Homo sapiens: one gene and its partners. The protein of the gene in region 2 purifies or fractionates together with the protein of the main gene of each other region. This does not show direct contact. Each region holds a gene or a part of one and is shown on either strand. Other genes may lie near its edges. The genes, in order: ZSWIM8, NUAK1 and PPP1R12B.

Region 1 (3,495 bases), on a different chromosome or scaffold from region 2:
CTCAGTAGCCCCCAGGCCTGAGATGGCTGAGAAGGGAAGGGTATCCTTTTCCCACAGTTCTGGGACAAATAAAGGGGCTTCCTTTGGTACCCCACATAATAGTGCTAGGTACCTTTGACCCATCATCTTGGGAGGTGGGGAGGAATGAGAGGGTCCAGGCAGGGTGTAGGGGAATGTATTAGTCCAATGAGATTTCCCTCTTCATCCGCAGCAGTGTATCTATTCTATACCTGGCTATGGGAGAGACCCCTTGCATGGGAGGGACCCCTTGCTATGGCCCCTTTAGCCAGGCAGTGGGATCTACCTGTGGCCCGGCCTCCCTAATGTCATTCACATTGAATGGGGATGAGGTCGGACAGTGGCTCATAGAGCCGAGTATGAGCCCTAGCTGTGGGCTAGAAATGTCCTTAATAAACATCCTTATTTTTCTGTTTTGTCTGCCTCCCTGGAGTGGGAAAAACCTAGACTAAAGCAAGTGTCAGAAGTTTCCTCCCCAGTTGAAGGTTCATCTGCACATGGAATTTGGAAAGAAGGGAAAGGCCCAGGTCGACTAGAGTAAAAAAGGAGTTTATATATTTATAAATGCCAAATAAATACCAGAGGCCACCCAACGCCCCCTCCCAGACAGGGCTGTCTCCCCCAGCCCTAGGCTTCTAGGGTGTGAGACATCTTGGCCCCAAGCTATAGCCCAAGAGCAGCTGTCAGTCTGTGCTACCAGGGAACTGAGTGAGGATGATCTGTCCAGCCAAGTTTCACTCCCCCTGTGTGAGGGGCCCCCATAGCCACAGGCCTGGGTCCCTGTATAGGACCCTAAGGGTGAAAGACTCAGGGGGAGAAGGTGGCCATCTCGAGTGAGACCCGCTGCCACAGCTCCTTGGTCTGTTTGCTGCGCTTGAGGTTCTGTAGGATGTCGTTGAACTGCATCATGCCCATGGGCGTCAGGCAGAAGGCGCTGCGGGCACTCCGGATCGCATTCACAAAGTCGTCGTAGTCCGCAGGAGTCAGGTGAATCAAGCGGTGGTGGATGTACTGGAGGAGGATGTGTGCAGGATGAGCCTTAGTACAAAGCACAGAAACAGGCCCTGCCTCCCTCTGGTCCAAGACCACCCAGGAAGTGCTCCACCCTGCTCCATAATTCTAGGTTGTCACCTGCATGTATGCCTGCTGGCAGCGCTGCACCAGTTGGTGGAAGGCCGGGGCACGCAGGTGGTTGTGGGCATGAGCGGGACTCAGCCGCTGCAGCGTCTCCATGACGATCTCCTGCAGCACAAACGGGCTCAGCACCCCCTTGGCTGCCCCCACACAGAACTGGTGCACGTAGTTCACTCCTGGGGGGCAGGGGGAGGGGCATGAGACGGGGGTGGCCACCTCTGCCCTAGGGACCCAACTTACAGATCTCAGCTCTGGCCTGGCAGAGAGCCTCCCTCCACCCCAGGAGCTGAGGTAACCCTCCGCCCCCCGCGCACGCACACATACCCGACCAAGGCCTCAACTCTGAGCAAGAGCTAGGAAGGAGGTCTGGGATAAGGAAGGTGGGGAGAGCAGGTGGGGGGGGGGCAATGGTCCTAGGGAGGGGAGGTGTTACCCAGCTTTGCTGCCAGCCCCAGCAACCATTTGACATCATCAGTGTAGGGGGGGGAGCGGGAGAAGTTGTTGGGGTGATCGTTGTGTGCCCGGCGACCCAGCATCTCCAGTGCCAGCATTCCTGGGAGATAGATAAGGGTGGGCACATGGTACGGTGTATCCTCTTCACCCTTTACCCCAACCTGTCACCTGACCCCACAGTAAACAAATGAAGAGCTAGAGGAAGGGTCCTCTGAAGAGCCACTGGCACAACTGCAGGTAGGAGCACAGAAAGGGATGTCCTCTCACCGACACGGTAGGCAGCATGCAGGTGGTGCAGGCTGTGGGGATTGACTGGCTGACTGTGTGTCTCCTCCTCGGGCGGTGGAAAACCTCCGCTCACCAGAGGGCTGGGCTGTGTGGTCAGGGCAGGCAGTGAGGCACCTTGGATGGCTGGAAACGTGGATGCTGGATGGACACTGCTCACTAAGTGGGGTGAGAGCCATGTGAGGAACTCAGAGCCCAAAGAGAGACAAAGAACATTCCCTCCCCACCTCCCCTGCCCAGTGTGCCTCCCCTCCATTCACCTGTTCCCTGGCCCCACAACTCACAGGCCACACTGGTGGGCAGTGGAAGCCCTGGCTCTGTGTGGTAGGGATGTACTGTGATGGGTGCCATGGAAGGAACGGGGAAAGACACAGCAGTGGCAGCAAGTGAGGGAGGAGTCACTGAATAAGGGTACTGAGCCCCTAGGAATGCAGGATGCACACCCTAGGGGCAGGGAGAAGAAAGGGGAAGATGCCAAACTTGATTAGGATGTTGCTGTCGTGCTTCACCCCCACAAGCTGCTATCCTGACATGTTTTTTTTGAGATAGAGTCTCGCTCTGTCCTCCAGGCTGGAGTGCAGTGGCACGATATCGGCTCACTGCAACCTCTGCCTCCCAGGTTCAAGTGATTCCCATCTCAGCCTCCCAAGAAGCTGGGATTACAGGCGTGCACTCAGCTAATTTTTAGTAGAGACGGGGTTTCCCCATGTTGGCCAGGCTGGTCTCGAACTCCTGACCTCAAGTGATCCACCCACATCGGCCTCTCAAAGTGCTGGGATTACAGGCATGAGCCACCATGCCCGGCCGTCATTTCTTATTTTAGTTGGGCTGGGTCCCCCAGACTCCCACCACCTCACCAGGACTCTCCGACTGACCAATTATACTCCCAGAGTACCCACTCCAACCCCCTATGAATTCCCAGTATTTTCCCATGCCTTACCCCCCAGCAGAACACTGGTCTCACCTGTGGGTATGCAGAGCTGGGCACAGGGAAGACGGCAGGCCGGGGCATGTGAGGCATGGGGTGGGCAGGGTGAGCTGGGTGAGTGAGATACTGAGGGCTACAGGGCAGGTGGGGCTGTAGAGCAGTGTAGGGGTGCAGGCCAGGGGAGTGGCCATGCCCCAGTCCTGGACCCGGGTATAAACTAGACCCCACCGATATGACGGGCACCACTGTGGCTGCTGCTGTCACTGCTGCCGCTGCCACTGTAACCGGCTCAGTCCCTGGGCCCCCTCTACCCTCAGGCATACCCCGCCCAGCTTCCCCACCTGCCCTGATCCCACTGGCACTACAGCTTGTAGCCCCTTCACGGGCTGTGGATGAGCCACCTGCAGTTTGCTCATACAGCCAGAACCACTGGTGAGCAACCTCAAACAACACTTCAGGGTACACGCCCCCACCCTTAGCTGCCTCTTCCACTGCCATGCAGGCCTTCTCCAACATCAGGTTGTCCTGGAAGAGAGGGGCACAGAGTGTTAAGGGGGAAAGGCCTTTACCACATGGAAGGTGTTAGATGAGATTCCAATGTCTCCCTCAGAGCTGTCTCATTCCCAGGGAATCATCAGAGGTCAGTGTCAATGCTTAGAGTCCATTATCAGAGCAGT
Region 2 (3,651 bases):
ATTATCACTGCTAGTTTAACAACTGCGAGATCCTGAGTTCCAAGACAGAAATTTGGCCATCTAGTTCACTATTAAATCCCCAGCACAGGGTCAAGTACACAGTAGGACCTTAATGAATATTTCTGATCAAATAAATATTGCCCAGAAAAGACGTTCAATTCCTCAGTGAATAAATGCAGGAATGGATGAGTGAATGCAGGTATGCGTGGATATATACACACAACACATGAATTGATTAATTCATGCATGAACACAGAGCTCTCCCATTCATATCATCAAAGCCCAGAGGCTGACTCTCAGCTGCCCCACTTGGTCTTATTAAGCTTCAGAGGTTTCTATCTCATCTTGGCCCTGGCCATTCAAAGCTTCTTTTCTTATCCACAGCAGCCGCGCTTCCATTGTCTTAAGGGGCAGCAGGCCATTTCCCCTATGCCCCTCTACTCTGAGCCCTGGGAGCTCACCAGATTCCCAGCCCTCTTGGAGGAGGTCGGCTGACCCTGGTGCCTGGACCTCTTCTCATTGTAAGACATTTTTACAGGAGCCTTCTATGGGAATTGTCAGCATTCCATTCTCCCAGAGAGTGGGCTGTGAATTTGGCCCGTTTTTTATTAATTGCAAATTAGTGCTGTGCTTGGTGTCTATTTTAGTAGACATGCTTCCAGAGTACGGAATGCAGCCCAAAGCAGCACATTGCTCTCATTCTTTCTGCTGACCGACTGTGTGAATATTTTTAGAAACCACACCCTCTCGCAGTGCCAGATAAATAATTTCCAATGCCAGATGTGTGCTCTGCAAATCAACATCAGGCAGGGAAGGGGAGAGGAATGAGCTACATGGCTCTCCCCACCACTGCAGCGACATGTGACAAGTTTAAACCAGTAGCATTTATATAGGCTTCCTAGGCCAAAGTCCTCCACCCTTGAAACGTGGAAAATGGATCCACATTTAGAGAAGCACCAGAGGGGGCTCCAAGAGAGGATCTTGCTGCTCATGTCCCGCTGGTTCGTGGCTCGTGTGTCTGTGGTCCCCCAGGTCCAGACACGGATGGCAGGGGCTCTCTTGAGCACAGAGGCCGGCTTGTGGCCATGTATCTGCCTGCCTTTGCCAGCATGGGTCCTTTCTAAATATGTTTCAGCAAAATGCTGAGTCAGGAAGAGTTGAGAATATACCACCAGAAGACAAATCAAGACCAGCTGAATCACATTTTTTTAAAACCTTGGAAGTGGATGGGAGATGATGAAAAGATAATTTGCCTGGAAGTCAAACACATGAGTTCTAATCCTGGCTCATCATTCCTTTATTCCAAAATCAAACCATTTTGAAGTACCTACTGTGTGCCAAGCACTAGTCTACACTCTGGGGAAGCAAAGACACAATAATTTAGTCCAGACTGATTCACTGTGTGATCGTGGGCATTATCCTCTAGACTTTCTGGGTCTAATCATTAAAACAAGGGGTTGGAAAAATGACTCCCAAAGTTCTTTAAAGATGTAGGATTCTCAGACCTAAGTAGGATTCCTTGAACAAAGAGGAAAGGAATTTAAAAGTGTTGATAATGGGAAGATCTGGTTTCTCTTTGGGACGTATGTGTGCATGCACACCCGTGCTTTACCTTGGGAAATGCCAGGATTAGAAATTCTTAAGGAAAGGTATATGCCTAAGCCTTAATTGATAATACTGCTTTGTGTGTGTGCTCTTTCCCTCCATCATGCACAGGCACCCTAGGTTGAAGAACTTGGTGCAGGGGAACTGTCAGGCCCAACATCATTGCCCTTTTGCTTACACAAATGAAGCCATTCTCCTGGGCTCCTGCCTCACTGTTTCCCTGCACAATTGCTTTCAGAATTCTAATCATTCTTTTCCTCCATTAGGGAATTACATGATTTCATAGAAAGCTATGTGTCTTATCACTTCTGGGAATACATCATGGGACCAAGAGGTCACACTGCACCATAGAACCCAACCCCTAGGCAAGAGGCTTACATTCCAGGCCTTGTAAAGATGACATTTAGTTTTGAGAGCTCTGGGGGCAGGTGGCAGGAAGGATCTGGAGAGGAAGTCAATAAGGTTGATGACACAAACCCTTAGAAAAATGTGGTGGCCCTCAAACCAAGACCAATTTTTCAGCCATGGCCTGACCACCACTCCCCAGGACCTAGGTAGGCACCTTCAGAGCAGCTGACTTCCGGTTCAATTCCCTCTCCAGTGGCCAGCCACTTAAGAAGGCTCCCAGTATAGTAACAGTTAAGCATGAATTGCTTTGATTGTAGTATTGTCTAAAATCTTCACGTTTATTATTGACTCTCCAGGACTGGGCACAGGGCATTGCACACAGTAACAGTTCAGAAAATACTCCTTGAAACAAAAATGAACAAATAAACAATAATCTGCAGAGACAGGAACTGGCAACTCTTGACAGATGAGGAAACTAAAGCCTAAATCATCAAGAAACTTACCCCAAATCCTGCCATTACTAAGGGGCAGGGTTGAAATATCTAACTCCAAAGCCACTGCTTTTAACTTTGACTCATTTGGACACGAGTGCTTAGCAGTTTACAAAACTAAACACAGAGTGTCTCATTCACTGCTCTAAGCAGGCCTGTGAGTAGTACTGTTACCCCGTTTTACAGCTGAGGAAACAGGGTTAAGTGGTTTTCCCAGTGTCAAGAAGCTAGTAAGCCATACAGCCCGGAATTTCCTAACTCTACAACCAGTGCTCCTTCTAGAATAATCCAACCACTTTGCCAGAAATAGACCCTGCGATTCCACTTCCTATTCCCATGGAGAACTACTTTGACCAACTATTTCCTGCTTATTCTATAGACTACATGTGACTACGGTCAAACACTCTGCAAGAGCAAGAGGTCACTGGGTCATGGCTTCCAGGGGCCTCTCAAAGGATGATGGTGACTAATGGTTGCTGCCATGATCTGTACAGAGAATCCCAACACCAAAGCAACTCCATCCTTCCAAGCAAGGAAACAAGTCTCATCACACGCTCCTCCACTGATAGCAGCAACAACAAAAAAATCATTCCCATGCTTTGCCCAGGGACCAGGGATAAGCCACTAACGTCACCAGCGGCCAATTGGAGGGCTCCTGCTGGTGCCGGGAGTACTAAGGCCGTTTCATAATGAAACCCATGCAGCGAGCTCCGTTTATTTTGAAACCGTATTTGCTTATTTTGTAGACGTGGTCAAAAGGACATTCAGAGGGCTCCCTGGGAGGCACTTGAACCCTGTGGGCCAGGAGAACTTTCTCCAGCTCCAGCAGCAGCCAGCAATAATACTCTCCGTGCAAGTAAACTCCAGCACTTGCTATTTCCCAACAGCAAGCACCATCCCCATTTTAGTCAGCTTCCCAGGTCTATGGCTGGTTTCAGGGGTGGGAAGGTGGAGAGGGAGAAGTAGGAGACAGGGTGGAGAGTGACAAAGAAATAGCCAGGCAAAGAGTTCCAGCTCTAAAATAATTTAGGATCCTGCTAGCAAATCAAGCAAAGCGACTTGAATTTGGGCTCGTGAAATCAGACAGACATGGGTTCAAATCCCAACTCTACTCTTTACCACTGGATTACCTTGGGCAAATTACTTAGTTTTTCTGTGCCTCAGTTTCCCTATCTGTGAAATTATGTAAATAACAGTACCTACCTTG
Region 3 (3,651 bases), on a different chromosome or scaffold from region 2:
TTCATCTATCACACAGGACACATAACAAGAAACACCAAATCCTTTAAATATAGAGTTTGTACAACAGTACTGCAGAAATCACACCATTTCTAATCCTTACTGCCACCTGGCAAATAATCAAGTGAAATCCCTACTTGTATCTGTTCTAAAATGGTCTTAATTGCTATGATAAATTCCATAAAGGGCTCTTCAAAACTTCAGAGGGAGGTTCAGGGCACATGTTTAATAAAGATTAAATCACAGGAATCATCTTCCTTTAAGTGAGGGGAGGACTGACAAGAAAGTTAATTCTTTTAGGAAGCATCAGCATAATTAAGAACCCTGACCCACAGTCTGAGAATGAAACCTGGGTTCAGGAGAGATGTGACACAGATAAGAATATCTACTAATTAAAAGGCCATATCTCTGCACTACTAGAAAATCAGTACATATATGGGCTGGGCACAGTGGCTCACACCTGTAATCCCAACAATTTGGGATTACTCAGTATTATTCAATATTCACTTTTTGCCTTTAATTCCAATAATAACTGCTTCCCTAACTAGTCTACCATACATTATGATAATACCTTCATCTATCACAGAGGACACATAACGAGAAACACCAAATCCTTTAAACACAGAGTTTGGGATTACAAGTGGCAAGGCTGGGAATCACTTGAGCCCAGGAGCTTGAGACCAGCTGGGAAACCAGTGAGACCCCCCATCTCTACCATTAAAAAAAAAAAAAAATTAGTTTAATTAAAATAAAATCAGCTGGGCATGGTGGCTCATGCCTGTAATCCCAGCGTTTTGGGAGGCTGAGGCAGGCGGATCACGAGGTCAGGAGATCGAGACAATCCTGGCTAACACAGTGAAACCCCATCTCTACTAATAAAAAAAATACAAAAAATTAGCCAGGCGTGGCGGCGTGTGCCTGTAGTCCCAGCTACTCAGGAGGCTGAGGCAGGAGAATGGCGTGAACTTGAGAGGTGGAGCCTGCAGTGAGCTGAGGTCGCACCACTGCACTCCAGCCTGGGCAACAGAGCGAGACTCTGTCTCAAAAATAATAATAATAAAATAAAATCAGTAGACATAGGGATAGGAGTTCCAGAGCTTCTAAGTTGTTTGAAGTGAGACCGAATAACACTATTTTCAGCCAAACTCAAGGATCTTTGTCATTATAACATTTTAATGACTCACATGAATACAGCAACAATAAAATCTTTCATACCTCACCACAGACAATAACATTAGGCTCCTCAAAGCTCATTTTTTGCCAAGAACAAATATATTTTTTTCCTGTTTTAGAGGCTTGAACATAAATACAATCAGAAGGTCCACGGAGTTTTATTTTAAATAACAAACATAACTCTGTGTTAATAGGGCCAGAGGCAGGGTGGTGGAGGGTAACATTATAGCTACCAGTGATGTATATTTCACAACAGTCAGACTGCCATTGAAAAGAGATGTTAAGCCTTTTATTCTAGAGACCCAGCCACCAATCTCGTTGTTCTTTTAGAGGTTCAGGCTCACTAACCAGTTTATTTCGAATATCCATGTCACAAAGTGCTTCTGCCAGGATGGAGCAAGCCTCCTTCACTCCCCAGTGTGCAGCAGCATGGAGGGGAGTCCAGCCATCATAATCCTGAACATTGAGTTCATAGCCAGCCTGAATTAAAAGTCTAAAAAGAAAACCCAAAACAAGACATATATCTTCTGTATATTACAATTTTCTGGCAAATACACTATTACCTAATTGATATTTCAGATTTTGGCCCTGAACCACAGGGGTCTTATGATTACTTCTGCCCTCTAAGGCACAGTTTGGGTTTCATAGTTAACTACTTTGCGTACCAATCATAGATGACCTTTACCAATCCTCTCAAAAAAGTCATAAGATATTTCCTAGGCATATCCATTTTACACCATACAAGGGGAGTATACGGAAACGTATGTACCTAAGATTAACCAAAGCATAATTCAATTAGCCAAATCACATAACTCTGTTAAAGGTACATTTTCCATTTTCCAGTGCAGGGAAGAAGTAACATATAAAATGAAGACTCTAATAGGCTGTGGTCATTCTCTCTATCTGTAATAGTGTCAACAATAAAGATAAAGTTTAAAAAAATAAAATAAAATGAAGACTCAATTCTCTTCAGGGTATTTTCCCAACTAGCCTTCTGGTTGGTCTTTCTAGGACACTATATTTACCATATACCCACATATCTCCAATTTTTTGCTAACTATAAAGCTATAATTTAACTTGTATGCATGGAAGAGAAAAGATTTGACTCCTGAAGACCCAAACCACATTGGGGCCCTTATGGATAGCGCTATCAGGCAGAAATGGAGCACCAAAACACTGCTATACCTATTAAAAACCCTGCATTAGGTGAAATATGAAATACTGGAAGAGTCCAGTTAACAACTGCACATATAATGCCTTTGGCAACCCATGTATTTGGGAAAGCCTGTGAACATTAAGTACCAAGAGCTACAAGAAGCATGTATGGATGTAAGGAAAAATGGAACAGACAGAGTAGTAGAGTCCAAATCCCTCATATAAGTTTGGCTATCCTGTGCCAGCTGGACATCGCATACTCAAGATCTATATAATTAATCTAATGACACAAAAGAAATTATATAAGTCAAAACGGAACAAATGATCACAAGTATTACAGGTCACAAGAAGAGGTCGTTGCAGGGATATTAATGACAAATCAGAGAACTGGAAGAAGTCCCCTCCTAGGACCATGTACCTCAACTCTGTTTCACATCATACATGTTAGTGAGAAGCTAGAGGAATGGTAGGAGGGAGGGAGACAATCCATGGATGAATACCAGCAAAATGTGAGAAAAGACTGCACAATCAGAGAGGAAACCAACAAAAAAGGAAACACGTCATAGCGGAAAATCTAATTCAGCCTCTGCTTCCAAAACCTATTCCATCTTCTCCCAGTGAACCACTCCTGATTGATGTAAATGGACAATACCTGAGGACTTCAGAGTAGCCCTTGGCAGCAGCCACATGAAGGGCTGTAGCCCCTGAGCGAGCCTGCCTCACATCCTCTATTTTCCCACTGTTGAGCCACTGGCGGGCATCCTGCAACATCTGCTGCTCTTCTTCTTTTCTTGACTGCTCTAGATCAACTCCTACAGAAACCAGATACCAGACAGCCAGGATTACTAAAGCTCCACTTAAGTTTGACAGGATATTTTCCTTAGATTAAAGCACATCATAAACATAAATACAAATAACAATTTAGCCATCAAGTTGGGTAATTATCAAATTTAGAAGATCAATGGCATTTGTACACATATTAATGGTCTTACCAGGATTAAATCATCAGGTTAAATATTATGTGATACAGATCCATTAAGGGAATGCACCTAAAATTGTTTTCAACAGAACATAAAGACAAAGGGGACATTATTTTTACATTATAATATTTGTACAAAGCTATAAACTTCCAAGTCTTTTTACATGTTATATGACTTTAGTTTCCCAACAATCCTTCAAGGTAAATATAATAGATATTACAATCTTCATTTAACAGATGAGGAAATAAAAATAGAAAGGTTAGGAATCTTGCTCAAAGCCACAAAACACATTAGTGACAGAACTTGCCGCTAGAACTCCGATATCCTGGGTCCCTCTCTGTCATTC

Evidence for each region.
Region 1: the proteins of NUAK1 (region 2) and ZSWIM8 purify together in Homo sapiens (affinity purification with mass spectrometry; one large-scale study listed by BioGRID and IntAct). This does not show direct contact.
Region 3: the proteins of NUAK1 (region 2) and PPP1R12B purify together in Homo sapiens (affinity purification with mass spectrometry; 2 studies listed by BioGRID and IntAct, with this or other methods). This does not show direct contact.

What each region holds. Positions count from the first base shown.
Region 1 is NC_000010.11:73,798,850-73,802,344, reverse strand, and holds the end of ZSWIM8 (zinc finger SWIM domain-containing protein 8), read right to left. Parts: exon of another isoform or gene 3,344-3,495; coding exon 2,855-3,343; exon of another isoform or gene 2,335-2,854; coding exon 2,175-2,334; coding exon of another isoform or gene 2,151-2,174; exon of another isoform or gene 2,050-2,150; coding exon 1,873-2,049; exon of another isoform or gene 1,706-1,872; coding exon 1,586-1,705; exon of another isoform or gene 1,329-1,585; coding exon 1,150-1,328; exon of another isoform or gene 1,030-1,149; coding exon 826-1,029; coding exon of another isoform or gene 569-825; 3' UTR 552-568; downstream 1-551. UniProt on the Homo sapiens protein: Substrate recognition component of a SCF-like E3 ubiquitin-protein ligase complex that promotes target-directed microRNA degradation (TDMD), a process that mediates degradation of microRNAs (miRNAs).
Region 2 is NC_000012.12:106,079,831-106,083,481, forward strand, and holds part of NUAK1 (NUAK family SNF1-like kinase 1), read right to left. Parts: intron 1-3,651. UniProt on the Homo sapiens protein: Serine/threonine-protein kinase involved in various processes such as cell adhesion, regulation of cell ploidy and senescence, cell proliferation and tumor progression. Phosphorylates ATM, CASP6, LATS1, PPP1R12A and p53/TP53.
Region 3 is NC_000001.11:202,425,052-202,428,702, reverse strand, and holds part of PPP1R12B (protein phosphatase 1 regulatory subunit 12B), read right to left. Parts: intron 3,138-3,651; coding exon 2,978-3,137; intron 1,664-2,977; coding exon 1,519-1,663; intron 1-1,518. UniProt on the Homo sapiens protein: Regulates myosin phosphatase activity. Augments Ca(2+) sensitivity of the contractile apparatus.